2 separate regions of the Homo sapiens genome follow, and region 2 is linked to region 1. Evidence: fine-mapped expression QTL. A gene starts in region 1. The other region holds a variant in brackets. All regions are shown on one strand. Distances are from middle to middle.

Region 1 (16,417 bases):
AGCTCCGTTTTGTTTTTTTTTTTGACATAGTTATTTGCATATTTAAAGTTTACACACATGCCATGACTCCAGTGTTTTTTAAAAAATAAGCCCTTCGCGGTGGCTCTTGTCTGTAATCCCAGCACTTTGGGAGGCCGAGGCAGGTGGATCACCTGAGTTCAGGAGTTCACGACCAGCCTGGCCAACACGGTGAAACAGTGTCTCTACTGAAAATACAAAAAATTAGCCAGACATGGTGGTGGGCACCTATAATTCCAGCTACTCAGGAGGCTGAGGCAGGAGAATCACTTGAACCTGGGATGCAGAGGTTGCAAGTCCCTAAATGGAGGTAGAGCATGTGTTCCTATTTTATACACTCTCATATGGGAGATAAGTGGTTAAAGATGACTAGAAACCCAACCAGGCCTACCGGGGTGCTGGACAGACACAGAGCATTTCTAAGGGAATGCCACCAGAGAACAAATACAAATCTGTACAGAAATCTTTTTTTTTTTTTTCACACTTAAAAAGAATCACATCCTCATTCCAACAGCTTTACTAGGCTTGGCCAACCCAATAAGTGACACACTCACTCAGGTACTGGGAAGGTTATTGCACAGCTCCTTAACCGATCGAGTCAGGGCAAAGTGGTCACTTTCCCCACAGCCACACTCTGGATTTGTCTCCTGGGAAGAAACCATGCCTGGCCCAGGCTGAGGGGGCAGCTGCAGCGGAACCTTGCCTCCAGATTACGAACCAGTATAAGTAGCACAATTCTTGTGGCTACTTTCACTTCAGAGTGTCATGTTTATTGATGTGGAGCTTTCTGAATAGGGAGGTTCAGGCATTGCCAGGTGCTCAGTAAAACAAATATTTCTTGTAGCGCTCTAGATTGAGGGCAGCAGTCAATGGTAAAATAAATTTTAGTAGCATGTTCCTGAAAGGTTATACAGCAGCCCTGGTTCAAGGATTTCTCCCCCTGCACGATTCCTAAGACTGTTTGCTAGTTGATTCTTTGTTTTGGGAATTTAATGGTTTTGATGAATTTGCTGTGATCCAGGGGTGTTCAAGTACTTCTCTGAGCATTGGCCTCTGGCTGGGATTATGCTTCAACAGTCTTAAAATGAGGTCCTGGGTCCCTCTGTTACAGTCAGGGAATGTGAATTCAACCCATGATACTCGTTTTTTTTTTTTTTTTTTTTGAGATGGAGTTTCTTTCACTCTTGTTGCCCAGGCTGGAATGCAATGGCATGGTCTTGGCTCACTGCTACCTCTGCCTCCCGGGTTCAAGCGATTCTCCTGTCTCAGCCTTCTGAGTAGCTGGGATTACAGGCATGCGCCACCACGCCCAGCTAATTTTTGTATTTTTAGTAGAGACGGGGTTTCACCATGTTGATCAGGCTGGTCTTGAACTCCTGACCTCAGGTGATACGACCGCCTCGGCCTCCCGAAGTGCTGGGATTACAGGCGTGAGCCACCATGCCCAGCCCAACCCGTGATATTCTTTTGTAGGTCTCTTGGTGTACGTTTGCCTCAAAAGGAGGCTTCCCAACTAAAAATTCATAGCAAAGAACACCAAGGCTCCAGAGATCTACCTTCTCACCATGCATCTGACCTCCAATCATCTTGGGCGGGGGGCGGGGGCAGGTAGTCCAGGGTGCCACAGAGAGTGGTCCTCCTGGAGGATGGAGCATGTACTGACCACCCAATATTCTCAGACTGTGTGGTTATTTCCATGATGCCACCAGATTCTACCTAATTCTAAAATATGCACCACTTGGAACTGTCTATAGAGCTCCTTGGATTTCAAAGCAGTCCTAAAACAAACTATTATAAAACAAATGTCCCTGCCAGCTGAGAGTCTTCGTGCAGGGTCTTCCTGCTTCAAATGACTAAGAGGCTCAAGTCTTCTCCTGATCTAAGTGAAAATCAGACACCTAACATGGCAAGAGCCAGTATGTCAGGAGCTCTACAGACACGATCAAAGGGAGAAAGGTGGTGAGAAGGATACTGGCCTGCAGCACATACTTCCTGCTAGCTTCCAGCCCTGTGCATGCCAGCAAGAAAGACTCATTTTCCCCTAAGGACATTTTTTTTTTCCCTCTTACTCCACACCACAGAGGCAGAACAAGCCCCCACCTGCCGCCTGTGAGTCAGGCAATGGCGAGGCATTGAGGATGCGGTGAAGAGCTTCTCAATGCTGTCTCTATTCCTTAGGTTCAGGACGATTTTACGGAGTTACAGCTTCTGACCCTGGGCACTGGCAGGAGACTGAGGCTCAGGCCTGTTAATTATTTATAAAACAAGGATTCTGGCAGCCACCTCCCCAGGCTGCTGTGAGGATAAAGTGGAAGGAAGTACAGAAGGTTCCTGCCACATAGGAAGGCACCCAGTAAACACAGTCCCCTTCCCTCCGTGCTATGAGACCAACTTAAGCAGCTTGATCTCGATCCACTATGTGCCTCTGCTTGCCCAGCTGCATGTTTTTCCAGAGGCGCCCAAGTTTCTGCTCATTAAAATAGAATGTATGTTGGCAATCTGCAAATGCACACAGGATGTCAAATGCCTTCTCCTAGCTGTTTGGATCAATCAGACGGTGTTGGCTCTGCAACTTCTGCAGCACCTCCCTCCCCTGTCCCCCTCAATACAATCCCTACTGTCACACAGCCCACGCTGAAACTGCCCAGTGATACGTTTGTCTTGACTGCCAGGCGGCAAATGCCTGAGACTACAGACTATCTAGTCTCTGCTGGAGCTCCAGAGACCTGCATGTGCCTGATGTATAGTAGGGGAGGTCCTTGCTTGCTAGATAAACAAAGCACCAGAATACCTCCTGTGGGAGGGCTAGAGGGACCCTTTCAGGGCATCATTGCACTCACTGTGTTCACTGCATTCTTTTTTATACCAAGATTAATGAAATGAACGCTATTGCGATGATGTTGAAGTATTGTTTGCACTCTATTCCCATCCAGTCATCTCGAATAGGCAGCTCATTCCCCTCTCATATCAAAATTTTCCTACAATACTAATTTGACCTCCAAAATACAGCCCTACACCTGGAAAGCTTTTTTTTTAAAGGGTGAATTCCACAATAAAAATCAACAGCTACTACCATGTAATGAGCATTTCTTATGTGCCTGCCACAAGACACACAGGCTCCGCCCTTCATGTCTTCTCTCCTAATCCTCGCAGCCAGCCAGGGAGGGTGTACTATTCCCATTTCACAGGTGAGGAAGCTGAGACATGGAGAAGTGAAGTGTTCTGCCCCAGCTTACACAGCTAATCAGTGGATCAGATTCCATTCTGGCCTCCTAGCGTCACCTTCCCGGTTCTGGGGGAAGCTGCCACAGGATGTTCAACAAGGGAGAGGTGTTGGGGCTGCCGGTAAGAGGTGACACTCTGGCAGAAGTCCAGGCTCCAGAAAACAGGCTATGAACTAGAGGCAGTTCAGAAGCACAGAAGCATAATTTAAAAAATCTGCCACCCTGAATCCTGCACGTTGGCAATTTCTCCCCCAGCTAATACCTGCCAGCAGCTCTCACACTCCATCCGGCACAAGATGAGATTTACCAGGGCCCTCTGGCTTCCTACAAAGTAGTTGGGAGTGATCTGCAAGCCAGGGGCTGGAACAGACCACCCATTCTCAGGTATGCCTCACCAAGCCTTTTCCGTTACACCTCGCTCATCACCTTGTTCCCTTCTGTTCCATTACTCATGCTAATCCCACTTGTTATTCCTGGCTTCTGGAGTTCTCATCCATGGATGTAGATGCTCTCCACGCCCCTGATCTCCTCAACAGAGTGTGGCCTTCGGATCCTGGTTCCCACGCAGCACCAGCTGCACTTGGGACAGCAGGCATGTGAAGTCTGCTGCAGGATGCCACAAAAATTTCCACTGTGCACTACCCAGGAATTACATTTTCCGTGACACAGGAAGAAATAAAAGCCAAAACAAAGCTACTTTTTAAAAAAAGAAGAGCCGGATTGGGGATCGCTGAAGGCAGTTTTGCAGGATAATGTCTGCCTTCTCTACCATCGGAAATGAAATGAGTGTAGGGAAAAAGAGGAAACCATTTCTACCTCCTTACAAAATGCAATTCCAACCCCAAATAGATTAGCCGTTGGCAGCCTCCTCCAAATCAGCAGGATGGAAATCTGAGCCCTTTACCAGAACAGTACACACCTGAATGGGAAGACTAAAATCAGAGGTAAAAATATCCGGTGGGGAAGTCCTTGCTGGAACAATCATCTTCCTTGTAACCTTTGGTAAAATATTTGGCTCAGGCTCAGAGTGTCAACGGAGGTAGATGACACATTTCTAGTTTGATATGGCAGAGAGAGCATTTAAAAAGCTGCCTGGGGAAAGTCACGCTCCCCCTAAAATAATTAGTAAATTTTCAGAACCCAGTGGCCTAACAACCAAAAGTCCGCACCAAGAAATAAGCAACATGCCATTTGTGAACTCCCTGGAGGGTTAGGGAGAAAAGCTGGGAAGATGGGCATAGATCACAAGCCCTCCCATACTTTCTGCATCTGCAGACACATTTTTAGCCAGAAGAGAGTTCATGTTTGTTTTGATGGATGATATCTGAAAATGCTTTAAATTGTACACAACCCGATTTCACTGTATGGGACACTGGGATTAGCCCTGAGGTGTGGGAGAACACACACAGGACCCAAAGTCCAGAGACAGGATTCCAACCTAGCTCTGCTCCTAGCAGCTGGGTGACTGCAAGCAACAACCTCCCCTGCCTTAGTTCCTCATCTGCCAAATGGGGAGAATCTGTTTCATAAACTCCCCCAGTGTTGTAAAGATCCAGTGAGACAGGGTAGAAAAGTCTCTGCTAAATAGTAAAATGTTTTCTAAATGAATGATGTTAAAAGTTTATCATTACATTTAATATATTCATTTCATTTAACAACACCCATAATCTGTAGGGTAGATATTATCATTTACATCTTTATAGATGAAGAAATGATCTTGGAGAAGACGAGACCCAAGGCCACAGAGCGAGAAAAACCCAGCTTAGAGTCCAGCCCAGGACTTCTCAGCTATGACCAGAAGTACGCGGTACACAGATGCACTGGTACACAGAGGCACGTGGTACACAGAGACATGCGGTACACAGAGGCACCAGTACGCAGAGGCACACAGTACACAGATGCACTGGTATGCAGAGGCACTGATACACAGATTTACTGGTACACAGGGGCACTGCGGTATGCAGAGGCACTGGTACACAGAGGCACGTGGTACACAGAGGCATCGGCATGCAGATGCACCTGGTACTATGAGGCATGCGGTACACAGATGCTCTGGAAAGAGCAACCATCTGATGGCAGGATACCTGAGCATGAGCCTCCTGGGTAAATTCCTCCACTTCAGTCTCTCAATTTCCTTCTCTCTAAAACGGAGGTAACACCATCCATCCTATTTCCCTGGAAAGGTTGTCGCCAGGACCCCATGAAACCACGATGCAAAGGCTCCCGGGGCAAGGGCAAAGTTTCCTAATTTGAGACCAGGGAAATCTAGTTCAAGAGAAGAGACTCATGATCAGGAAAAGGAAGGGGAGGACCGAGGGTAGTAATCACATTCAAGGAAAGTCAGCAGCTAATGTGGTAGGTGGAAGAGGAAAATTAAGCAGTCCAGAGCTGTTTAGAAGACGAAAGGTCACACAAAGGAAGGGACTTCAAATACATTCAGCTGTCCCACTGTGCTGCCTTGGGGTTATACAGAAACATTTTGCAGGGAATGCACACACACAATCACCAACAGACTTCCAATAGCCTCCTTGATGATAGGGAGGGGGGTGGGATTTGTTTTAAAATAGCCTTATTGGATAAAATTAAAAATGAGCAATTCTATTGCAGGCCTCCCAATTAAACTAGGTTTTCATTTACTGATATATGCACTGCAAAAGTTTGAGGACCACTGTTCTAAAACAACCTCGTAGTGTTGCTGACCCTCTCATTGCTATAATTACATGAAATTTCATTTACCCAGTAAAAATTATTAAGCATCTGCCCTGTGCCCGGTACCCTTCCAGGTACTGAGGATGTGAGGACAATGCTTTGTAAGATGCACACACATCAGGGGAGTTATTAACAAAAAAGGCATTTTCACCACAAGCTTATGATGCCGTCACTGCCAAATAACTATTCTGTTTTTATGATGCTCATTAAAAAGCCAGGAGGGGAAATGTCAGTGTATATTACCGAGCGAAAGACACCAATCTGAGAAAGCTACGTACTACATGATTCCAATCATAAGACATTCTGGAAAAGGTAAAACTATTGAGACAGTAGAAAGATCAGTGATTACCATGTGTTGTAGGGAGGGTGGGATGCACAGAAGATTTTTACGGTAGTGAAACTATGCTGTTTGATACTATAATGGCAGATTTATGTCATTTTACATTTGTCCAAAGCCATAGAATGTACAACAGGAGCAAACCCCAGGGCAAACTGTGAACTTTGGGTCATAATGATGTGCCAGTGTCGGTTCATCAGTTGGAACAAATGTACCACTGCAGTGGGGGATGCTGACAATGGGGGAGTCTGTGCATAGGCGGGGACAGGAGGTATATGGGAAACCTGTACCTTCTGCTCAATTTTGCTTTGAACCTAACACTCTAAAACTGGGTCTCAGTTTCCTCATCTGTAAAAACATGGGCTTCTGACTATGATTCGGATATCCCAGGGGCTTGTGCCTATTGAAGAGAGGGGAAATACTGGCTGTAATCTCTGTACGGTAGACCAAAAACCAGATTTAATGAAAATACACTGATGGTTTTCAGCCAGAGATGATGAGGAAAGCAATCCTCTTCTCCAACCTGGGATTTGCCTGGGGACCTAGTCTGAGAAATTCTTACACTACTAGGAGATGGCTCTGGGCTGGATTTTACAAAAGAAGAGTAAGGCCTGAGGAGCTCTGAACCCCCATCAGTCACAAGAGAGGATGGCTTCAGCCTGCTGAAAGCCAGCAGCATTTACAAATTCATGCCTGTGGCTTTTGCCAACTCTAGTGGTACCTTTCTGACCTCTTCACTTCTCTGACTCTTCAATAAATCGACATTTCTTAATATAGTGTCACCTTAACAGCAAAAGAGACCTTGAATTTTTGGGACTGAATTTATAAAACACTTAGAGGTTCTGGGGTTTTACTTAAAGCAGCTTGTAATTTGAAAAATGTACACGTTCTAATTATTCCAATCTCCAAGACATCAAACACATGGCATGAGGTCCCCATTGCTAAGTCCCCTTTCAGCTTCAGCTGGAGCCCTTGATTCCACAATCACAAGCAGCAAGGTGCCCTCCTCCCTTCTCTTCTGTCTGGTGCCCCCAGCAAGTTTTCAAGGTTCAATTCTGAGACTCTCCCATTCACCGTCCCAGCAGGTGGCCAAGGGCCCAAGGCGGGAGGGAAAGGTCGGCTTAGCTAGGGAAAGTTTTGTTAGCCTTATTGGAAGGGAAGGAGACATGCAGGAAGCAGGGCTGAGCCAGGTGGGGGAAGTCACCAGAACGACAAACCCCTGGACTTCCCACTGCCCAAGCGCGAGGACTCTCGGGGCAGCCGGCCCCTCTCAGGTTCTGCTTGCAGACACTTCGCTGGGGGCACTCGTTCTGCCTGGGAAAACTGCCCCAAGTCCCCTTAACACCTGTGTATGTCCTGTAGTGGGGTGTGGGGTGGAAGCGAGCATGTCACCAAAGCCTTTATTCAAAGGGCGAGTCCCTTTCCGCGGCCGCCAGGGAAGGGGGCCCCGCTACTGTGCCAGGAGGGCAGCTTGGGTTTAATACATGCCCTCCTCCACCCCTGTACCCGGAGCCCCTACCCACTTACCTGCTGACCGCACCCCTCCCAAAACCCCGCCAGCTCGCCCGGGACGGACCGCGAGTGGCCACGAGGGAGGCGCGCGCCAGGTGCGCTCTTCCCCCGACGCCGCCGTGCCAGGAAGGCCGCGCTCAGGTGCGCGCAGACAATGCGAACAAAGCCCGCACCCTCGGCGGGGCCGCGCAGCCCGGGTGCTCTGGGTAGGGGTGGCTGGGCAGAGGGGGCCCCAGTACCGGGAGCGTGAATCGGTCATCGGCAGCCGGCACTGGCGGGTACCCGGGCGCCAGAGCCAACTCGGGGCTGGGACTCACCGGAAGGAGAGCGGCGACCAGCGCTCGGTGCCCGGGCGGCTCTACTCACAGACCCGGGCGCGGCTCGGGCCAGGGGGCGCTACGGGATCACAGGAGGGGCGCCCGGGGCGCGGCTGCCACGTGGGACACCTGTTTGTCTCTCCTGGGAGAGGGCGGCACGACCCGACCCGGCTGAGGTCGGAGGAACTACCGCCAGGGAGGTGCATAGAGCCCCTCGCGTTTTTTAAAGCGGCATCGGCCCAGGTCTGCAAATAAAAAAGTACTTCACTTCTACGCGGGTCACCCAGCCTCCGAGCGGTGCAGCCGCGAACACTGTGCCGTCAGCTGACTCCTCCACGGGCTTTATAGCTCCTTGAAAAAATGTTGACTTTGGCATCTTTTCTATTTGTCATGGCAATTGCCTTTTAATTACCTGTCCCTCCTATTGTTGCAGTTGGGTAATAAGCCGACCTTTTGGCCATCATCCTTGCTTAAGATTGGAGGGCGTTTGATTTTTAAAAAATCAAATGCCACAAAGCACAATGCTGAGCATGATGCTTTATATAAAGTAAGCTCTCAATGAACGTTGACTATGACTGCACAATCCATAATTTCCATACTTCATTTAAAAACTGCCAGAGCATGCCTGTTCATTGCAAAAAAAAAAAAAAGAAAAGAAATAACAGTAAAAAAGTTGATAAATCAATCATTTTCCAACACCCAGAGATAATCAGTTAACATTGTGGTGTATGTTCTTCCAATGTCATTCTACCTATGCAAAAATTTATATATTTTTAGTTCATTCCATACAAGCTGTACATTACTCAGGTTTTCCATTTCCTTTTTTTGAATGTCCGTTTTAAGCCACTTCATAATGTCCTAATGTACTTAACCTATCTGCTATTGTTGAATATTAAACTTTCCATTTTAATAATACAATTAGATGTCTTTGTGCTTTTGTCCAATTAATTCCTTAGAATAAACTACGAAAAGGTAAATTTCTAGGATACAGGTTTTATACAACTTAAGACTTTTGATGCCTATTATCTAATTGTCCTCAAGGAAGGTTGACCTGCTTCCTCTTTTCCATGCTCCTTCCCATTATTCTTGTAAATGTCAATCTGATAGGAAAATAATTTGCTTTACACCTTTCCTGTCTGTAGTTCTCAGTTAATTTCCAAACCTCCGACACTGACAGCTTCCAGTGAAAGTGGCCCGTGGTGACTTTAATGTTGCAAACCTCATTGAAGGAGGCTAGGAAAGGACTCATTTTTCCTGTAATTCATTTCTCCCAGTAACATTTACTGAGCACCCAAAAATAAAAACAGGGCCACACCAGAGCAGCAGACATAATGTACCACCACATCATCCCCACAGGGGACAGCAGTTAGTCTTGAGGTCTAACTGCTGGGGAGGGATGGTCTCTGCCTCTAGATCAGCATTGCCCCAGAGAAATACTGACCAAGCCACGTGTGTAATTTTAAATGTTCTAGTGGTCACATTTAATAAAAAGTGAAAAGAAACAGCAAGCTGGATTTCAGTATTAACCTAAACATCCGGAACATTATCTCAACATGTAATCAATAAAGATGTTTTATGCTGTCTTCAAAGTCCTGTTTTTTTGTTTTTTTTTTTTTTTTTTTTGTTTGAGACAGAGTCTCACTCTGTTGCCCAGGCTGGAGTGCAATGGCATGATCTTGGCTCACTGCAACCTCTGCCTCCCAGGTTCAAATGGTTCTCCTGCCTCAGCCTCCCGAGTAGCTGGGATCACAGGTGCACACCACCATGCCCGGCTAATTTTTGTATTTTTAGTAAAGACAGGGTTTTGCCATGTTGGCCAGGCTGGTCTCAAACTCCTGACCTCAGGTAATCCACCCGCCTCAGCCTCCCAAAATGCTGGGATCATAGGCGTGAGCCACCACGCCTGGCCAATCCTGTTGTATTCTATACTCACAAGCACATCTCAATTTGGACTCGCCACATTTTTAAGTGCTGTATAGTCAAATGGGGTGAGTGGCCTGTGCTGCTCCAGAGATGTCCAACAAGGGCAGACCCCAGGTCCTCAAGAAAGTGGAAATTCTACCTTTGACAACCCTCTCCCTGTACCCCTTATGCTGTTTAACAGGTACCAGCATACTTTGACCTTATCAGGCTTACCTTGGAGAAGCCAAATTTCAATCCTGGTTGTTCCTGAAGTATTTGGCATGTCTTTAATTGGGGGCGGGGGGGGGGGAGGTATTTCACATTTTCATTCTGTGATTATGAAGAACTGAAAGCATAAATACAGTGAAGATACCTGTTGCTTCAGACTTCTTCACATCAATGTATAATCAGTCTGTCCGGGGTGTGCACTTGGGCAGGAGGGAAGGCAGGTGGTGCAGGCCCTGGTGAGTGCTGAGTGCTGAGTGGGTGACCAGCAGGGGTGGAGGCTTTTTATGCAGAAAGCTGGGTAGCTACTTTTGTCATCCATGACATCCCTTCCTTTGTGAAGATTTACAAGGATTTAAAAAATAAAGTTATTATGAATTACAATCATTCTAAGGGGCATGTAAGCTTCTTGCTTCCCAGGAGCTTGCCTTATTCATCTTTGCAGCCCAATGCCTGGTAACTTGCACACAGTAAATGCCCTCAGAAATAAAACCCCATGTCCTCCACTGACTGAAAGGACCCCCTCTTGTCCAAGGGGACCCCAGAGAAATATTTTTGAGACTGAGTCTCGCTTTACTGCCCAGGCTGGAGTGCAGTGGCTGGATCTCAGCTTACTGCAACCTCCGCCTCCCAGGTTCAAACGATTTTCATGCCTCAGCCTCCCAAGTGACTGGGATTACAGGCGCCCACCACCAGGCCCGGCTAATTTTCGTATTTTTAGTAAAGATGGGGTTTCACCATGTTGGCCAGGGTGGTCTCGAACTCCTGACCTTAAATTATCCAGAGAAATCTTAAAAGCGGAGTTCCCATATATGACTGGAAGGGAGACGGGAAACAGCTTGTTATACCTGCTCCTTCACTATCAGCCATTAGTTTTTTTTTTTTTTTTGGAGAAAGGGGCTTGCTCTGTTGCCCAGCCTGGAGTACAGTGGTGTGACCTTGGCTCAAGACCTGCCTCGACCTCCTGGGCTCCATTAATCCTCCCATCTCAGCCTCCCGAGTAGTTAGAACTACAGGTACGTGCCACCACACCAGGTTTTTTTTTTTTTTTTTTTTTTTTTTGGTAGAGATGAGGTTTCCTTGTGTTGCCCAGGCTGGTCTTGAGCTCCTGGGCTCAAGCAATCTGTCCATCTCACCCTCCCAAAGTGCTGGGGTCACAGGCATGAGCCACAGTACCCAGCCTTCTTTCTTAAGGGTTAAACAGAAACCAGCCCTTTGGGAAAGACTTGCTCCACCCCTGCTATCTTTGAGGGTCTCACTGTATCCCCCAGGCTGAAGTATAGTGGCACAATCATAGCTCACCACAGCCTTGACCTCCTGGGCTCAAGCAGTCCTCTTACCTCAGCCTCCAGAGTAGCTGGGATTACAGCCACGTACCATTGCACTGGTGGTTTTTTTGTTCTGGGTAGAGATGAGGTGTTGCTCTGTTGCCCAAGCTGGTCTTGAACTCCTCAAACTCAAGGAATCCTCACAGTGCTGGGACTGCAGGTGTGAGCCACTGCACCTGGCCTCTACTATTGATATGAACCAACCACTTGATGCTGCCCCTTCCTTTTAAGGTTTCAACAAACCAAGCAACCAGCATTCCTTCCTAAGAGACAATGGACCATGGAGTGGCTCTGGCTAGTCTATAGAAGATGTACCATGAGAGTTGTGTCCTCTGCTTCACCTTTTGACCCAAGAGGGCCAAAAACTCCACCCCAGAATCATGCTAATACCATTTTTTTGTACATGTAACCCATCAAGAGTCATGAAGCTTAATTGCACATGTACATCTTTCATAAATATTCATGACTCCTCCTATAGTTTACTGTGTATTTGGCCACTCCACTCAGCATAAATTCCTGTCTTATTTTTCCCAACCTGGAAGTGTGTTTCTGGTTTCTGGCTGGAGGCTACACTTTCCAGACTGTAGCAATGGCTACCCTGCCAGTGGCCACGCTTTATGAAAAATAAAGCTCTCCTTTCCAAATTCATGAACTTTCTCATTCTTCAGTTGACACCTTCTATGATGTTAATTCTCAAGTTGCGCTGTCCCGTGTGTCTCAGTTGTAAACACAAGAGGTATAAACACAGAGTCTTAGTGTAAACTGAGAGTGTAAACACAGAGGTGACTGAATTTCACTCAGGGATAAATGGAGACATCCGTACTCGGTGACATGCATCACCCAGAGGCACCCATTGTAGTAAAGTGACTGTGGCTTCAGATTAGGGGGCTCCTGCCTACTGGCTTTGTAACACAGAAAAGAAACTTAACTTTTGATTGCTCAGTTTCCTGACCTATAAAGGGTGATGGGTACAACAGTTCCTAACTCTAGAATCCCAACTAATATTTTGATCCAGTCCCTCAAATGATGAAAGGTAAAGCACACACGAAAGGAACAGACAAAAAGGAGGATGCTTAATAGAGCTCCAAGAGTTGTATATTTTCCAGAAGCCACATAGCAGCCACTAACCAGAGCCCTCTTATTGAGAAATAAAAGAACACGAAACAGTACCTACTAAACAGCAAAGAAACCATCCTAGAGGAAACAAAGAGCCTGACTCAGAAGCGCTCAACAAGCAGCAAATTAAGCCAGAGCCTAATTTGGTCTGTGGTCTCTTAACTGTGGAGCCAAGAACAAGGAGAACAAAGTTGGGGGCAGAGAGAGACACAGGACATGAGGAGCAGAAATATTGCCATCTCCAAGCCAAAGCCACTTAGGTATGGAATAGGCAGCAATTGTTTGAAGGGTTAATGCATCCATCCCAGCTCCTACTTAAGACAGTGAGAATTATGCGCAAAGTTGTATTGGATTTGCTTTTGGGAAATGTGCTTTCTGGCCGAATCAAGTAAACATGGAACAAAGGCACACGCTTGTGTAATAACCACTCAGCCAACATATGAAACTTTCTAAGTGCTCTACCTCAAACTGTCAATACTTCCATGTTATTTCCATCTCCTCTCCAAATTCCCAGTATCATGAATTTTAGTCATCACATGTCTGCCTTAACTAAGTATTCATGGAACACATTTAGAGAGGCATCTGGGTATACTCTGGAGGCAGAGTAGGCTCCTGCCTTATAATAAGCATCAGAGTCTGTCTCACTTCCTGGAAGGTTCTCATCACAGGAGATAGGGGCCTCTTCATCAAAAGGTTAACACCACAAGGTGTTAAAAATGGCATCCCCTCAGGGTGATAAGGGAAGCAAGCAAGCATGGAAAAAATGGCTAAGGCTTGGCAGCTAGCTAACACCTTAAATGAAGCCAGTTTTAGGTTACTTGAAACTATAGCCAAAATGCAAGAACTTTCCTAGGAAAATCAGACTGCAGCGCGTAGACCAGGGCAATACCAGAACGTTAATGGTTGGTTCTCTGGGTGAGCCATCTGCAGTTCTCACCCTGTGCGACTGGGCAGTAACCTTACTTCTAACAGAACTTCACCACCTTAATTCCGGCAAGTAAAACCATTCTACCATTCTTTCTTAACTGCATGTTTAGAACCACAGGTTACCCTCCAATTCCCTTTATCTGGAAAAAGCAAAAAACACTCCGACAATTTTGTGTGTATTAAGGGCTGTTTGGATGCAAGTAGGGCCACAAAACCACCTACATGGGGAGGAGCCCAGGTGTCCTCTTTGGCTGATCCCAGAAGAGCTCGACTTGCCAATTCCAGGCAGCTGTGTTGGTGAGGAGCCTATTAGTAACACTAGTGATCTATTGCTCGTGGCTGACACTCTCTCAGCAGTGAGCCTCACAATGACTTAATTTCTCTCTGGGAATTTGGCAGCTTAGGGTCCCGCTGGTGAGGATCTTCACGTGTTGGTTTCCGGAGCTGTTATTACATAGCAAGAGAGATCAATTTCAGAATAGTAGTTAATCCTCGTTCACAATTTTGAGACTTTTACATTTCTAGCTGCTGCAGCAAAAGAATTTTAGCAAAACAAGAAGTGTATCAAATATGCTCCTTATCCCCTTGTCAACCCCCAGGAGTTCACTGTTCTTATGATAGAAATCTCCTCCCTGGCAAACTGGGTAAGATTTATCTTAATATTTACAAGGCCTCCACCCAAGACTAAATCATTTGTTCAGATATACGGTCTCAGCTCTATGGTACTTATAACCAAACCAGATATTCTGAGGGGATCTGAAGACTGAAGCTCTACTGTATTTATGACCAAACCAGATATTTTGAGGGGATGTGAAGAACATATTAGCTGGTATGATAGAGCTGTGCTGGCCCAAATAAAAAATCTGGCACATACCTCAATGTCAGACTCATAGCTGGAGCTCAAATATTCATTGAACGAATGAAACATGCAGCTGGCACATTAATCAAAATCGGAAACATGTTAAATCTACTCAGAAGGAAGACCTGATGATCCAGTATGTCTCATTAATCCAAGAGACATTTAACCTATATCTCTATTTGTGAGGCTAGTGCTATAGATACTAGTCTCTTTTGGAGAACAAGGCAAATTAGCTGAATCAGCAAATAATATTAAATTCCATTTAATTAAAACAGTTCCTATTCAAATGTCTAGTACCATAGGATAAAATGTTACAATTTGAAGCCAAACAATGACTCCTGATTTTTCTGTGTTCCTTGATTTGTTTCCCTAATTTTCCTTAATAAAACGGCAATTGTGTGATTGCATATTCTTGTATTTCCTCTGTGGTTACAAACAATAAAGCAGACAGTATGAACACATTAAGCCTCTAATTCTCCCAGTATGTACAAGAAAAAAAAGGAAATTGGCAAAAATGCCTGCAGTAAGAAAACAAGAGAAAGCTGGTTGGGAAGTGAAATAATTTTATTGGGCAAAGCAGCGTGAGCTTTTATCTAACAGAAGCACATCAGTGTTTTAACAACTTTTTACATGAGGAAATATCCCATTTAACAGATTAGACAACGTACATTGCCAGTAAAAGCAAAAAAAAAAAAAAAAAAAAAAAAAGTCTTTCAAGTATCTGCTGAGTTGGTGAGAAACATCTTAGGTTTCATAGTCTGACAGTTAAATCATGAAAAAAATTCAAACTTTGGGGTTGGCAGGAAAGTCAGCCAGCCCATAATTCTGCATATGCGTGGTTTAGGAGAATTTGAGATTATTTTCATGCTTCAGGAAAAATATACACTCTTCGTTTTTTTTTTTTTTTTAACCTTAAACTGATAACTGTATTTGGGTTTCAGAAACAGTAAATTCTATCTATAACAACAAAAATCTAGCTACAGATTTCTAAGGTTGTGGACACAGCAGGAGAGGGAACATAAAGTTCCTTCTCCAGTTAGAGTGGTCCAGAGGTCAGACTCTGTGCCCAAAGGCCAAAAGAAAAATAATCCAATTAAGGACGGAGAGAAAGAAATTGATGACCTCTGAGTGAACAGAAAAAGAAGATAACAAACATGAAAGCAAAGGACATTATGTGGAAGAGGCAGACGACAGAGAATGCAGGGAATATTACAAAATATTTCAAACGGACAGAAAATAAAACTCATATCAACTTTTTTTTTTTTTTTTTTAAGACAAAATCTGTCACCCAGGCTGGAGTGCAGTGGCACTATCATAGCTCACTGTAACCTTGAACTCCTGGCCTCAAGGGATCCTCCCACCTCAGCCTCCCAAAGTGCTGGGCGTGAGCCACTGCACCTGGCCTTCCTTCGGTACCTTTAAGTAATAAAAAGTTACATATATAGCAGAAAGTCCCTATGTATTCCTTGCCAGTATTCTCATTGATTTGGTATGAATTTTTTACGTAATATTTATTTGGTGGAAGGAACTTAGAGGAAAATAAAAACCACCAACCTAATAGGAGAATGGCAGGCAGGCAAAAACGGAGGGATAGAAGGTCATTACAGAGAAAGTGGACAAAGAAAAGGTTCTCATAAATAAAAACACCAGGTGCTGTACTTTCTCTCCTAAAGCTAGCCTTTGCTGTTTCCTGTCTCATAAGGGTTTACCTCCAAGAGATGCTGTTTCTGAAAAAGAAAAAAAATCAACTATCATTATGCCTTACACAAAAACTCAATTGCTATGGCTTTTAATTTCAAATACAAGCAAACAAAATATTCACTTTTAACTGAAATTACGCATTTAAGCCAGACCTGTCAGTTAAGAAAATTAATGACCACCATAACATAGCATAATATATGCTAAGTACAGCTGTTTATACTCCCCTTCACAAATATAACATA
Region 2 (12,880 bases), 54 kb before region 1:
GAAAGATGAAGGCTGGGGAAGACTCAGCAAGTCAAGTCCTTCCATGTTCTTCTGCCTGCTTTATTCTAGCCATGCTGGCAGCTGATTAGGTGGTGCCCACCCAGACTGAGAGCGGGTCTGCCTCTCCCAGTCCACTGATTCAAATGTTAATCTCCTTTGGCAACACGCTCACAGACACACCCAGCAACAATACTTTGCATCCTTCAATCCAATCAAGTTGACATTCAATATTAACCATCACACCATCGTTTTCAGATTAGGAAACAAGTTCAGAGAGGTAGAGGGACCTGTCCAGGTCTGGCATCCAGCCTAGCAGGGCTTTGTGCCAAAGCCCCAGGTTCTATCCGAGCCTGGGGAGTAGACTGGGGACAGCCCTCATGATCCAGCTCTGCTTACCTGGGGCTTCCCTCTCTGGGTCTGTAGAGATCAAGCTTGGCAAGAATCGGACAGAAGCTGAGGTGAAGCGGTACACAGAGGAGAAGGAGAGGCTTGAAAAGAAGAAGGAAGAAATCCGGGGGCACCTGGCTCAGCTCCGGAAAGAGAAACGGGAGCTAAAGGAAACCCTACTGAAATGCACAGGTAAGGGGGCCCCCAGTGGGGAGGGACCCTCAGCTCAGAGGGCCGTGTAGGCTTAACTTTTTGGCGGAAGATCTGGCTGTCACCACACCTTCTCAATCAGTGGGCCCTGGCCCCTTCAACCCTTGGCCTGGGTGGGTGCTCCCTTGTGTGTCCTTTCTTCCAATCCTGTCTGAAAGGTCATTCTCCTGGACAGAGAGAGAAAGCCTCTGACGGAACATCAATAGGACCAGCAGGTCATCGTAAAAGCTAGTTAAAGGAAGTTTTACAGGGTTATGCATAGGCCGTGTTTTATTGTCACTTAAATGCATATTCCTTGGCCCATCTTTTGAGGACCTGGCACTGCAGATTTTTTGAGCTCTGGTTGGCTGACTGGAGTCTCATGTCATCCTTCATGCATTAACTACACCTGTTAATGCATCAGCCTTCATTTCCAGCCTTCATTTCTTGAAAGTCAACAAAAACTTAAGATACTTGCCAAGAAGTCTTTCTAGATTATCTTCCAAATCACACTCGTATCATTTGACAGCTATTTCCTGGCAATCTGCTGCATTTAAAATTTCAAAATTAAAAAAATATTGAGATGGGGTCTTGCAATGTTGCCCAGGCTGGTCTAGAGCTCCTGAGCCCAAGGGACACCTGCCTTGGCCTCCCAAAGTGCTGGGATTACAGGTGTGAGCGTGAGCCACCATGCCCAGCTGCAACCTGCCTCTTCTAGAACCTTTCCAAAGTATTTGACTTAGTTTTCATGGAGTAACTTTGTGCTTATTTAAATTGTAGAGGTGTATGAATAAGCAAGAGCAGCGGTGCAGGTTTGAGGACAAACTCAGCTGACTGGTGAGGGAAGGTCTTGAGGGTGCAAAGTCACCCACTGGCTTTCTTTTTTTGAGACAGTCTTGCTCTGTTGCCCAGGCTGGAGTGCAGTGGCGTGATCTTGGGTCACTGCAACCTCTGCCTCCTGGGTTCAAGCGATTCTCCTGTCTCAGCCTCCTGAGTAGCTGGGATTACAGGCATCCGCCACCATGTCCAGCTAATTTTTGTATTTTTAGTAGAGATGGGATTTCACCATGTTGGCCAGGATGGTCTCGAACTCCTGGCCTTAAGTGATCTGCCTGCCTCAGCCTCCCAAAGTACTGGGATTACAGGCGTGAACCACCGCACCCAGCTTGAACTGTATTTTTTTAAACTCCAATCTTCAAAACATTATTAGTATACGTTTTCTTTTCCTTCCCTCTTTAGAGATGGTCCTTCAATAGCATCTGTGAATTTTTCTTAAACAGTGGCCCTGTGCTCAGGACTCTATGTGGTACATATGTGATACCATCCTTTCCTCCAGCAGTGAGCTTCTAGGATACAGGCCCTAGGCATCATTTCACGGTGTGGCAGCATCAACCCAAGAGGTCCAGGGTTAACAGGAGGAGCCAGGGCTGAGGACTCCTGCTCTGTTAGGCGTAGGGAAGCCAGAGGATTGAGGGAACTTGGTAGGGCAGGTCAAGCTGCCCAGCCCTCCTCCATGGGCCATGAATAAAGCCCCTCACCCTTTTGGGTCACTGTCAAAGCAACCAAGAGTCTCTGAGAACCTACAAGAAGGGACTTAAGGCCTCAGACTCATGCCCCTTAGTGAAGCCAGAGCTCTCCTCCCCAAGAGCCTCCCAGCCTTTGCAGAATGCTAGCTAAAGGAGGCCTCCAGGCTGCCCCGGCATACAGGCCCCTCCTGGCTCTGAGTGTTGGGGCCAGACCTGTGGTCCTTCTCGGGTGGCGGGGTATGTAGACCCTGCCTCCACCCAGCAGGGCTCCCTGGCCTGGGCTGAGATGCTGTTCTCTGACACCTGCATAATTCTCTCTCCAGACAAGGAAGTCCTGGCGAGCCTGGAGCAGAAGCTGAAGGAAATTGACGAGGAGTGCCGGGGCGAGGAGAGCAGGCGCGTGGACCTGGAGCTCAGCATCATGGAGGTGAAGGACAACCTGAAGAAGGCTGAGGCAGGGCCTGTGACGTTAGGCACCACCGTGGACACCACCCACCTGGAGAATGTGAGCCCCCGCGTGAGTGCTGGAACTGCGGCCTCTGGGCTGCTTGCAGGGCTCCCTGGACATGGGTTGGGGTGGGTGGGTCACATCTCCCTCCCCTTGACTCAGCCCTTGCTCTCCTCCTATAACCACAGCCCAAAGCTGTCACACCTGCCTCTGCCCCAGACTGTACCCCAGTCAACTCTGCAACCACACTCAAGAACAGGCCTCTCTCGGTCGTGGTCACAGGCAAAGGCACTGTACTCCAGAAAGCCAAGGTAAGCAGTCACTCCCAGCCTCCCTTGGGGCCAGCAGAAATGTCACTAAGGTAGGGGCCCATCTTCTGACCCAGGTGGTGCTTTGTGGCTTTTGGCACCAGCTCTGAGCAAGGGCTCGGCACTCACCAAGGAGTGGCCATGGCTTTGCCATGCCTTCAGCTCAGTCTCTGGCACTGACCAACCAGAAAGGTGTCTGCACTTGGTTCGAGCATCCTTCCCTGTGAGCTTGGGGATGCTTCAGTTCTTGCCCTCCACACAGCTATGGGTAGATTCCAGGAGGCCAGCTGCAGCTCAGGGACAGATTATGACTGAGTTTTCAAACCAAAAAGTCAGTCAGTGACTCCACAGGACTTCTACCATTAAAACTAAAGAAACAGACTCACATAGGTGGTTTGAATTGCCCAAAGTTGCCCACCCAACTACTGGCAAAATTCTCAGCAAGTTGTGAATGAGGAATCCATGCTATGATGCGGTTTCTCCCTGATGGCTAGTCAAAAAAGTATCATTAATCATTTACTCATTTACTCATTTGTACACTAAAGAACATGCCTAGGGCTGCCTTTGCTTTTGGCAAATTCTGCTCCTTATTCCTATCCTCCTTACCTGCTGGAGATATTTGGAGGTCCCACAACAATGGCTAACCAATAAATCCATGCAAGCATCTGAACCTCCACTCCCTTGTTGCTGTGAGAGACATCACTTATAGGCACTCGCTGTTGTGCCACAGTCTCAAAATCTCTGAATAGGCACTCTAAGCAGTGATGAACACACAGGGTTTGAAACATTTATCACCTCTGTGCCTAAAATAGTTTTTCTCACATTTTTTCTATGTATATCAAGGTTGCTACAGTGGATAACTAACTATCTTTTTGGTGGGGGGTGGGTGCTGGTATTTGAATGGTACCCTAGGAATGGGAGAAGAAAGGAGCAAGTTAGAAAACAAGCTTCATCTAAAGACTCTCATGTCAATGTGGACCTTGGTGACAATCCTGCTTTGTTAAAGCAAAAACTATGCGAAAGGGTGAGTCTGTTTAGAAGAAAAAGCAAAGACTGAGGTACTGTGAATGGAGAGCTTCAGCTAAGAGGAGGCTCTGTCCCTTTTCAGAGCCAAAGGAAATAATACAACAAAAAGGAGGCTTCTTTGGAGACCTAAGTCTATTGGATGTAAACAAGACGTTGTATTTAGGGATGTTCTGTGTTTCTTTCTTTTTTGAAGTTGTCATCAATTGCTTTACTAAGATTTTTAAATAGTGAAAACCTCCTGTTTAGACTTTGGTGGAAGATGAATCAAGGAAGCAGGGCCCTGTCTTATGGGTCACGTGTCTTTGGTGAGTGAGAAGACCTAAACTCCTGGCCATCATCTCTTATCCAATACTTAGCAGTTGGGGATTAAACCATCCTTGCCTTCAGTTCTCTCCAATATTACCAGGCCCAACTCAGTCTTCAGTGATTTTAAACAGCATTGACATCATCTGTAAAACCATCATCTGTAAAACCATCTATGACATGAGTTTTGAGAAACAATAATGGGGAAAATATTTGGGACCAAGCTGAAGCACTAATCCCACTAAGTTAAAGACTTCTTTCCAGTCCAAGGCAGGCCTGAATCAACTGTCTTTAAATAAAATTTTAAGTGATGCTGTATTATATATAGGAAAAAATGCTTAAAATCCTGTCATTTAGAACAGTGAAAAGTATCTTTTGAGATTAAAGTGACTCTTTACTGTAGGAAAAATATTACTCTGTGTTTACAGATTCATTGCTGTGGTCAGGCCATTTTTAAGGGAAGAGTTATTTAATATAAATAGTCTCTGATTTTAAGTTCTGTTTAATGTTCATTCTCCTTCCAAGAACAAAGTGGTGATTTTTGGTTAGGGTGATCGCCCTCTTAAAATTGGCAGTGCTGTTCCTTGTGCTGCCCCTGTCTTTTCCTCTGATGGCATTTTTTTTTTTTTTTTTTTAACACAGGTTGAAACATTTCATCTATTATCTCTGCCTCATTTCTGGAGGGTTGTGTATCAGTTCTCTAACACTTGTTCCTGAGAACTAAATGTCTTTTTTATTCTTATTTCCTCTCTCATAAACATTTGGTGACCTTTTACCAAGTGGTGAGTTAG[TTAGG/G]TTTTTTAAAATAAAATGTTCATTGTATTTGAAGTTTTCCTCAGTTCATGAAATGACTTGGGGCAGGGCCTGGGGGGTTCTCAAGGGAGGAAATGTTTTGGTTATTTACACACTGAACTACAAGATGGGATCCTAGCAGGAAACTCAGCCTCCTTGAATCAAAGAGCATAGATAAGGCTGAAAGCAAATTTTAGTTGTACAGTTAACAACATACCAAAGACACAGGAAACATCTGCAGAAATTGATCATATATAAGTGAATGAAAAATCAGTACTCCTCCCAGAAGTTAAATATACTCCTAAAGAATTCTTGGGAAAAAAGAAACATACCAATACTGGGAAGGTTGCCTAAGTAGTAATTAAGGAAGTTTATAGCATAAATGTGTTTATTTTAAAAATGACAAAATCAAAATCGGGTTCATTAAAGAGACAAATAGACAACCTAAGGCAATATGAAATAGCAGAACTGAAATGGAGGCCTTAATACAGATACTGACAAGATTTTTCAAATTATAAAAAAATACTATGAATATATCAGTGTAAAAGTTTGAGAAATATGTATTTTCCATTATAAGGTTAGTATAGCTCTGATACCAAAAATTCAAAACAAATTGCAAAAGAAAACAAATCTCATTGTTGGACACAGATTAAAAGAATCTGAAATAAGATGTTGGCAAATGAAAAATTCAGCAGGGTTTATAGAATGATGCATAATGACCAAATAGAGTTTATCCAAAAAAATCAAGGGTTGTTCAATGATTGAAAATACACAAATGGATAACCTATCACATTAACAGATAATACAAAAAATGCATTATCTTGAGGAAGAAAAAGCATACCATAAATCTCAACATGTAATAAACACTCTTAGTTCATCTAGGAATTAAGCATTCTTAAACTGATAAGTAACCCATAGAAAACAATTATTATGATGAAAAAGTCAAGAACCAGATATGGATACATGCTACTTCATGAAACATTATTCTGGAGGTCCCAGGCAATGCAAAATGACAAGAAAAAGAAGTGGTATACAACTTTGAAAGGAAGAGACAAAACTAGCATCATTTGGAAATATTTCTCTAGAAAAGCAAGAGTCAATTATTAGAACTAGGGTATTCAACAAGATGACTGGAATCAGGATCGTTCAGAGAAAATAAGGAAATTTATGGCCTATATGCAATGTTTTAATTATTGCAAGGAAAATATATTTCTGTCTTATTTGAATAAGTAATTAAAGGTAAAAATTAAAGCTAATTTCTTTTAAATGAAAGAAAAAAGGCTTGGCTAGTTAGGCCATAGGATAGCACTTTCCTGGGGGACTGACAAAAGCTGAACTATTTAGTGGCACTGTCACTACAAAAGGGGAAAAAATGTTTCAAAGGCGAGAAACCCATTTCCTACAAAGAAACAGTAAAGGCCCTTACTATGTAAGTCGAGAGCCCACAGTTTGCTGTTTAAATCCAAGTAATTCAATCAGGGCACCCAAATACCAGCCCGGAACAAGACAAAAAGCCTACATTATAACATGGTTAAACTGCTATTTAAAGACAATGCATTCATGTAATTTCTATGACATCACTGATCAGCATCTGCTAGGGAGCATGTGATCCTGCCCCGGACGTTGTCTTCTGTGAAGGGCAGCATAATAACAAAGTTATCAATGAAAGTATCCCTTGAATATAGATGATTATGACTCAATGTCTGGTACACCAGACTTTTTAATATCTAAAATCTTGGTGATACTGCTTCAAGCGCTTTTCTAGCACCAGAAATCCTGAAGTTCTTAAAGCCAAAGTACCCTTGAATGTTTGTCTATAAAACATTATGTTACAATATTTATAAAGAAAAATGGGCCAGGCACAGTGGTTCACCCCTGTAATCCCAGAACTTTGGGAGGCCAAGGCAGGGGGATCACCTGAGGTCAGAAGTTCGAGACTAGCCTGGCCAACATGGTGAAACCCTGTCTCTAACTAAAAATACAAAAATTAGCTAGGCATGGTGGCACCTGCCTCTAATCCCAGCTACTCAAGAGGCTGAGGCATGAGAATCACTTCAACCTGGGAGGCAAAGGTTGCAGTGAGCCAAGATTGTACCACTGCACTCTAGCCTGGGCAACAAGAGCAAAACTCCGTCTCAAAAAAAAGAAAAACGATAAAGTGTCTGGAGTCACATCAGAGCTCTAGAAAGATTTCTACAGAAAATCCAACTCTAAACAACACAACCAAGGAGAAGAAGTAATTCCTAAATACTGCAGCGATAGGGAAGTAAGTATCTAGTTTGCCAGAGAATATTCCAAATATGCCTCTTTGCCACATAGGTACAAATATCCCTGTTTAATAAATAACCAACATTTCTTGAAATATTTCTTTAAAAACTGTGTAGAAAAGCAAAGCAAAACAAAATTAAAACCTAGACAGCGTAAGATCAATGCTTTAAAAAGCAAAATCTCTGTAAGTTTCTTTATCCTATATTTTTGAGTTTAAGAATCTTACTTCTCTTTGCCCCACTAAAAGGAGAATAAGGAAAGAATTCCATAAACACGCCACAATTAACCCCTCCTAAGTACATTTTTTTCTTTTTGAGACAGATTTTTACTCTTGTTGCCCAGGCTGGAGTGCAGTGGTGAGATCTCGGCTCACTGTAACTTCCGCCTCCCAGGTTCAAGCCATTCTCCTGTCTCAGCCTCCCGAGTAGCTGGGATTATAGGCATCCACCACCACCCCCGGCTACCTTTTGTATTTTTAGTAAAGACAAACTTTCACCACGTTGGCCAGGCTGGTCTCAAACTCCTGACCTCGGGTGATCCACCTGCCTCAGCCTCCAAAGTGCTGGGATTACAGGCATGAGCCACAGTCTCTGGCCGCAGCCTCTTTTGAAAGGAAGACCCTTCAGGTGGACACTGCTCACGACTCAGAACGATTTTACGTGGCCCCTCCAGACCTGGGCCCATTGCACACTCAGCCCCTCCCCCATCATCAAACAAGCTGGTTAATTGGTCACATTTCAGTCTGAGACCTTTCCAAGTCTCTTCCACACACAAAAGGCAGTCGCCAGAAGTCACAAACGTCCCTCAAGCCCCCTTTCAGACTCAATGCAAATGCATCCAGAATGTCTCTGGGGAAGTGGAAAAGCTGCTGCTTTCCATCTTGAAAGGCCGTGGCCTTCGCCGTCCAAAGGATGCTCTAGTAAAGGCCTCTGCTGGGCATTACTGTGTCAACAACATTCTGGCGAGCATTGATTGTGTGCAAAGGAACGTCAGGCCGCTAAATTTAAGTCTTCAGGACCCCTTGTTTATCCTCAAGGGAAAGGTGGCAGATGACATAGCCTCAACAAGGCACAGCAGGTACAGAAAGTGGGTATTTACTTACACATCAAAACTTTTCAACAACATCGTTTGTGGGTGACATCAGCTGCTTTCTTGTCTCTAAGCAGCATGGCTGCAGTTGGGACATCCTCCTCCCTCAGTGAGAATAGTGGTCCTGGCCACGGCGGGAAGCAGACATTCTAAGGACCTGGGGCACAGACATTCCAGAAGGTAGGCACCATTTCAGTGCCCAGGCCTTCTCTGTAGTTGCTGGGAGGGGTACGGCTGCTGCCCTCCTGCACGGGAGCCATGTGCCTCAGGGGCGTCTCAAGAATCCTGGGGAAGGAAGTGAAGTCTGAGGACAGGAGTGTCTGCATCCCCTTCTCAGCCCTCCAGCAGCCTCTGAGGACCCCTTCAGGTCCTGCTCTTACTCTACAACCCACCTCGCCCCCAGCAGAAGATGCCAGATTAGAGACCCCATGTGATTATCCTCCAGAGCTTCTCTCTGGCCTTAGGAAGCCAACCTCTGCCCGTGGCCAAAAAACCAAGGCTCCGACTGGACTTGTCTTCTGATTTCTGGCTGTTCTAACTTCAAACTCATGAACAGGAGCCATAGTTGGACCTCTAATGCCTCCCAACGATCACTCTCTAGGTCCTAATCTGTTACCCTTGACAATGACTTCTTTTCTCTCAAACCTCTAGCACCTCCTCCTCGTCCTCACTTAGCTGTTCCTCCCATTTTACTGAGCAAATAGCACCCCAAAAAGAGCTTCCAGCAGCTCCCACCACCGCATTTACCCATCCCTGCCTCCGTCTACATCCCTGTACCCTGGATCTACTGTGCTCCTAACTGTGGCCTCCCTCCTAGTTGTCATGACTTTCTCCGGGGTGCTTAGCACCGTCTACCACACCACATGTTGTATTATTTGCTTATTGTCTGTCTTCCCATTAGAATGGAAGCTCCATGAGGGCAGAGGTTTTATTCATTTGTTTACTGCTATGTTCCTGCACTGAGAACAATGCCTGGGATGCAGGAGGTACTCACTAAATGTTTCGTGGGTAAACGACTGAATAATTTCTTCCACTGAACGAATGTTTTAGAACCTGCCTTCAGCTGAGTTTGTGGGACTTGGCAGGACTCGCAATACCATCCCTGGCTCACACATACAGAGCAAGAGCTCCACTCACGGTTCTCGCAGTGGGGGCCCTCCCAGCCATCCCGACACTTGCAGCGGTAGCTCCCATTCTGCAGGACGCAGCTGCCCTCATTCATGCACGGGCTGGGTTTGCAGAGGTTGACTGGCTGCTTGGCTTCTACAATGGAGAACACCATACCCACCAGGCCGGCCAGGCATGGGTTAGACCCGAAGACCCCTACCCTAAGTAAGCCCAGTAGAGGTGCAAGGCTACTAGAGTCATGTCTCCCTTTGCCCCGGTAGCTCATGGTTGGTGCTGCATACCACTTGGCTAGGTTAGTAAGACCCAGCTCTCCTACAGACTCATGGAGAGTCCATTGCTCAGACGTGCCATACACATGGCAGACTTTTTTTTTTTTTTTTTTGAGGCAGAATCTTGCTCTTGTTGCCCAGGCTGGAGTACAATGGCGCGATCTTGGCTCACCACAACCTCCACCTCCCGGGTTCAAGTGATTCTCCTGTCTCTTTTAAGAAGGTGAAGAGGAGGTCACTGGATTTGGGCTGGCCTGGCCCTGTTTGCTCTGGGCTCTGTCACTGCCCAAGTCAGTGTGAATGTGGGATCTTTAGACCCTTAGGAAGCTTGTGGATATTCTAAAAGTGTGTTCTGTTTAAAGGGAATGCATAAATTCTCAAGTTTGGGGGGAGTTATCTATGTTAGTTAAACTTTCTGTACCTTAAATGTCAAATAGGATGGTTATGCCTACTGTAGGATTTTATGTGAGCATGGGGTTTAGCACAGAACCTGGCACTTGGGAAGCAAGTGCTCAGTAGCTGGGAAGAGCTGCCATCCTCGTCATGATGTATGTGAAGGCTCAGGCTGAGGGCCTGCCATGGGGGCAGCCCTGAGGGTGTGGATTCCCCCACTCACCTCCACACAGCCACTCAATGAGCACGTCCTGGTGGTACCGCAGGTCGGCGTAAGCTGCCACGTGGATCAGGGAATCCCGGGGACCTGCAAGCCTCCGCAGACCCTCACTTAGGACAGGCCCCACGCCCACGACCAAGACAGAGATGCCATTGTTCCTCAGCTTCTGGGCAGGAACGGCTGCATCCTCTGCGCCTCTCCCGCCTGTGAGCACCACCACAGCTTTGGGGACACCAGGCCGGGCACCCCTCTGGACGGTCATCACTTTGTCATAGATGTGCAGCAGGGCGGTGCCGGCTGAGCCCACCCCACCTAGGTAGGGGGCCTGGCTAATGGCCCGCAGCATCGCAGCCCGGGTGGGTTTGGTGTCCAGCCCGAAGGCAGTCTGCACCTGGCTGCCATACACCACCAGGCCGACCTGTGTCACGTCAGGGTTCACCTCAAACTGGAGGGCACAGCTTCTCACAAAGCTCTGCATCTGAGCAAAATTCTCGGGCCCTACTGAGGCAGAGGTGTCCAACATGAAGACGAGGTCCAGGGCTTGTGTCCGGCACCCTGCAGGAGCAAGCAGAGGGGCTTCAGCAGTGGATGTGCCAGTCAGAGCCCCTCGACGGGACCCAGGGACTGCCAGGTTGGGTAGGACCAAGGTCAGCCAGGGTGCTCTGTTCACTGCAGAATACACCCTCTATGTCTTCCTTTTAGCCACAGAACAGCACTTTCCTAGAATATTAGCAGGAAGATGAGTGCCTGCCAGACCACATTTCCCAGACTTCCTGGCAGCTAGGGTGGCCACGTGTCTAAGTTCTATCTGACGGACGTGATCAATTTCAAACTCATGCAGCTGGAAGCTGCTTACCTTCCACTTCCCCTCTCCCCCTTCCTGCTGGCTGAGAAATGGTGACCTTGGACCTCAAGGTGGAAGCCATAAGATGACCAAGCCCTGCTGGCCCGGGCCACTCACCTCTGAACTGTATGTGAGAGAAATAAGTTCCTGTCTTATGTAACCCATGGGGTTTGGGTTTGTGGGCAACCCTTTGTGACAACATCTTCACCTGTGCCTTCATCCATCCCCAGTATGCAGGGCACTAATTAGATGCTGTATGGACAAAATGGGCCCATGCCTGCTGTCAACAGGCTGACAGTCTAGGGGAACAGACATGAAATGAACATAGAATTACAAATGATGTCGGCAGCGTGGAGGGAAAAGCAGGGGACTTCGAGAGAGACCAGTAGGGGAACATAACAAGACTGGGAGAAGGGGTCAGAGCTTCTCTGGGGAGGTGACATTTCACCTAAGAACTGAAAGACAAGTAAGTATGAGCCAGAAGGCCTCTCCTGTGCAGGGGATGCAGAGAGGCCTGTGGGGACCAGGCCACAGGGAGCTCTCAGAAGCCAGGGGAAGGAGTTTGGGTTTTATTCCAAGTGCAAAGGGGAACCACTGGAAATTCTAAGTATGGAGTTAGAGGAGCTGATGCTCTGATTACTGGTTTTTAAAACCACTCCCACACCAGGAACGTCTGAGAAACTATCACAGCTACGGGGAAGGCGGCTGACTACATGTACTGTGGGGTCCTGGATGGGATTCTGGAACACAAAAAAGACATTAGGTAAAAACTAAACAAATATAAATAAGCATGGATTCACTAAATAATGATGTATCAATACTGGTTCATTAATGATAACACTGTGCCATACTAATGCAAGGTGTTAATAGGAGGGGAAACTGGGTGTGGGGTATAGGGAACTCTCCACTATTGTCAATTATTTTTTCCTATAAATCTACAACTATTATTTTTTTTAAAAAATCCAACCAAACAAAGCAGCAGAACAAAAGCACTTAGACCAGCCTGGAGGGGCAGGGTGGGAGTGGGCAGCCAATCCCTGTCCTTCCGCCTTACAGGAGGGAAAGCCTCTCGCCTTGGGGAGAGTGGTGGCATCAGGGCTGAGAAGCAGAATCACATCTGTAGCTTCCCATGCCCACCTACCAAGGGGAGAACTCCAGGAGCCCTATAAAGGCTTACATTTCACTCAAGCCTGTAATCCCTCCACTTTGGGAGGCTGAGGTGGGTGGATTGCTTGAGCCCAGGAGTTCGAGACCAGCCTGGGCAACATAGCAAGACCACATCTCTCTAAAAAATAAAACAATTAGCTGGGCATGGTGGTGTGCACCTGTAGTCCTGGCTATTCTGGAGGCTGAGGTGGAAGGATCACGTGAGCCCAGGAGTTCAAGGCTGCAGTGAGCTATGATCGTGCCACTGCATTCCAGCCTGGGTAACAGAGCAAGACCCTGTCTCAAAAGAAAAAAAAGACGTGTTTCAGCTACTACATCTCTGGCCATGGGCCAGGCCTCTGCGTGGGGACAGTGTTCTCTAGAGTGCCTTCCAATAGGGGTCATAAAAAATCAGCTTCATGGCTTGCAAAACAGAACAGAAGAGAAAAATGTCAGAATGCATCCCAAGTAGACAGGGTAAGTATCCTCTCAGGAAGCGTTTGTTTCAGTTGTGTGTGGCTGCACCAGCGCGTGTGCATGCACA

Direction of the effects. Positions count from the first base shown, and alleles are read on the strand shown. Sizes are in standard deviations (SD) of each study's normalised expression.
For the expression in tibial nerve of the gene that starts at base 8,433 in region 1, TTAGG is the high allele of the variant in region 2 and G is the other (moderate effect, 0.49 SD a copy in GTEx).

Evidence for each region.
Region 2: its variant is fine-mapped to the expression of VWA2 in tibial nerve (GTEx, PIP above 0.99). The same link has a PIP of 0.9 or more in cerebellar hemisphere, cerebellum, esophagus muscle, sigmoid colon, spleen and thyroid.

The regions. Positions count from the first base shown.
Region 1 is chr10:114,231,270-114,247,686 of GRCh38, reverse strand. It overlaps VWA2 (von Willebrand factor A domain containing 2), which reads right to left and starts at 8,433. Exons shown (of 14, transcript NM_001272046.2): 1 at 8,118-8,433. It overlaps TDRD1 (tudor domain containing 1), which reads right to left. Exons shown (of 25, transcript NM_001395205.1): 25 at 15,021-16,417. It also overlaps the pseudogene AURKAP2. RefSeq lists an enhancer at 7,814-8,522.
Region 2 is chr10:114,286,959-114,299,838 of GRCh38, reverse strand. It overlaps VWA2 (von Willebrand factor A domain containing 2), which reads right to left. Exons shown (of 14, transcript NM_001272046.2): 12 at 10,350-10,901; 13 at 9,474-9,599; 14 at 5,350-8,621. The coding sequence ends at 8,602. It overlaps AFAP1L2 (actin filament associated protein 1 like 2), which reads left to right. Exons shown (of 19, transcript NM_001001936.3): 16 at 424-579; 17 at 2,426-2,619; 18 at 2,739-2,861; 19 at 3,771-5,015. The coding sequence ends at 3,797. Among named protein-coding and RNA genes, the nearest start is that of VWA2, 54 kb to the right of the region's middle. The variant TTAGG/G (reference allele first, on the strand shown) is at 4,979.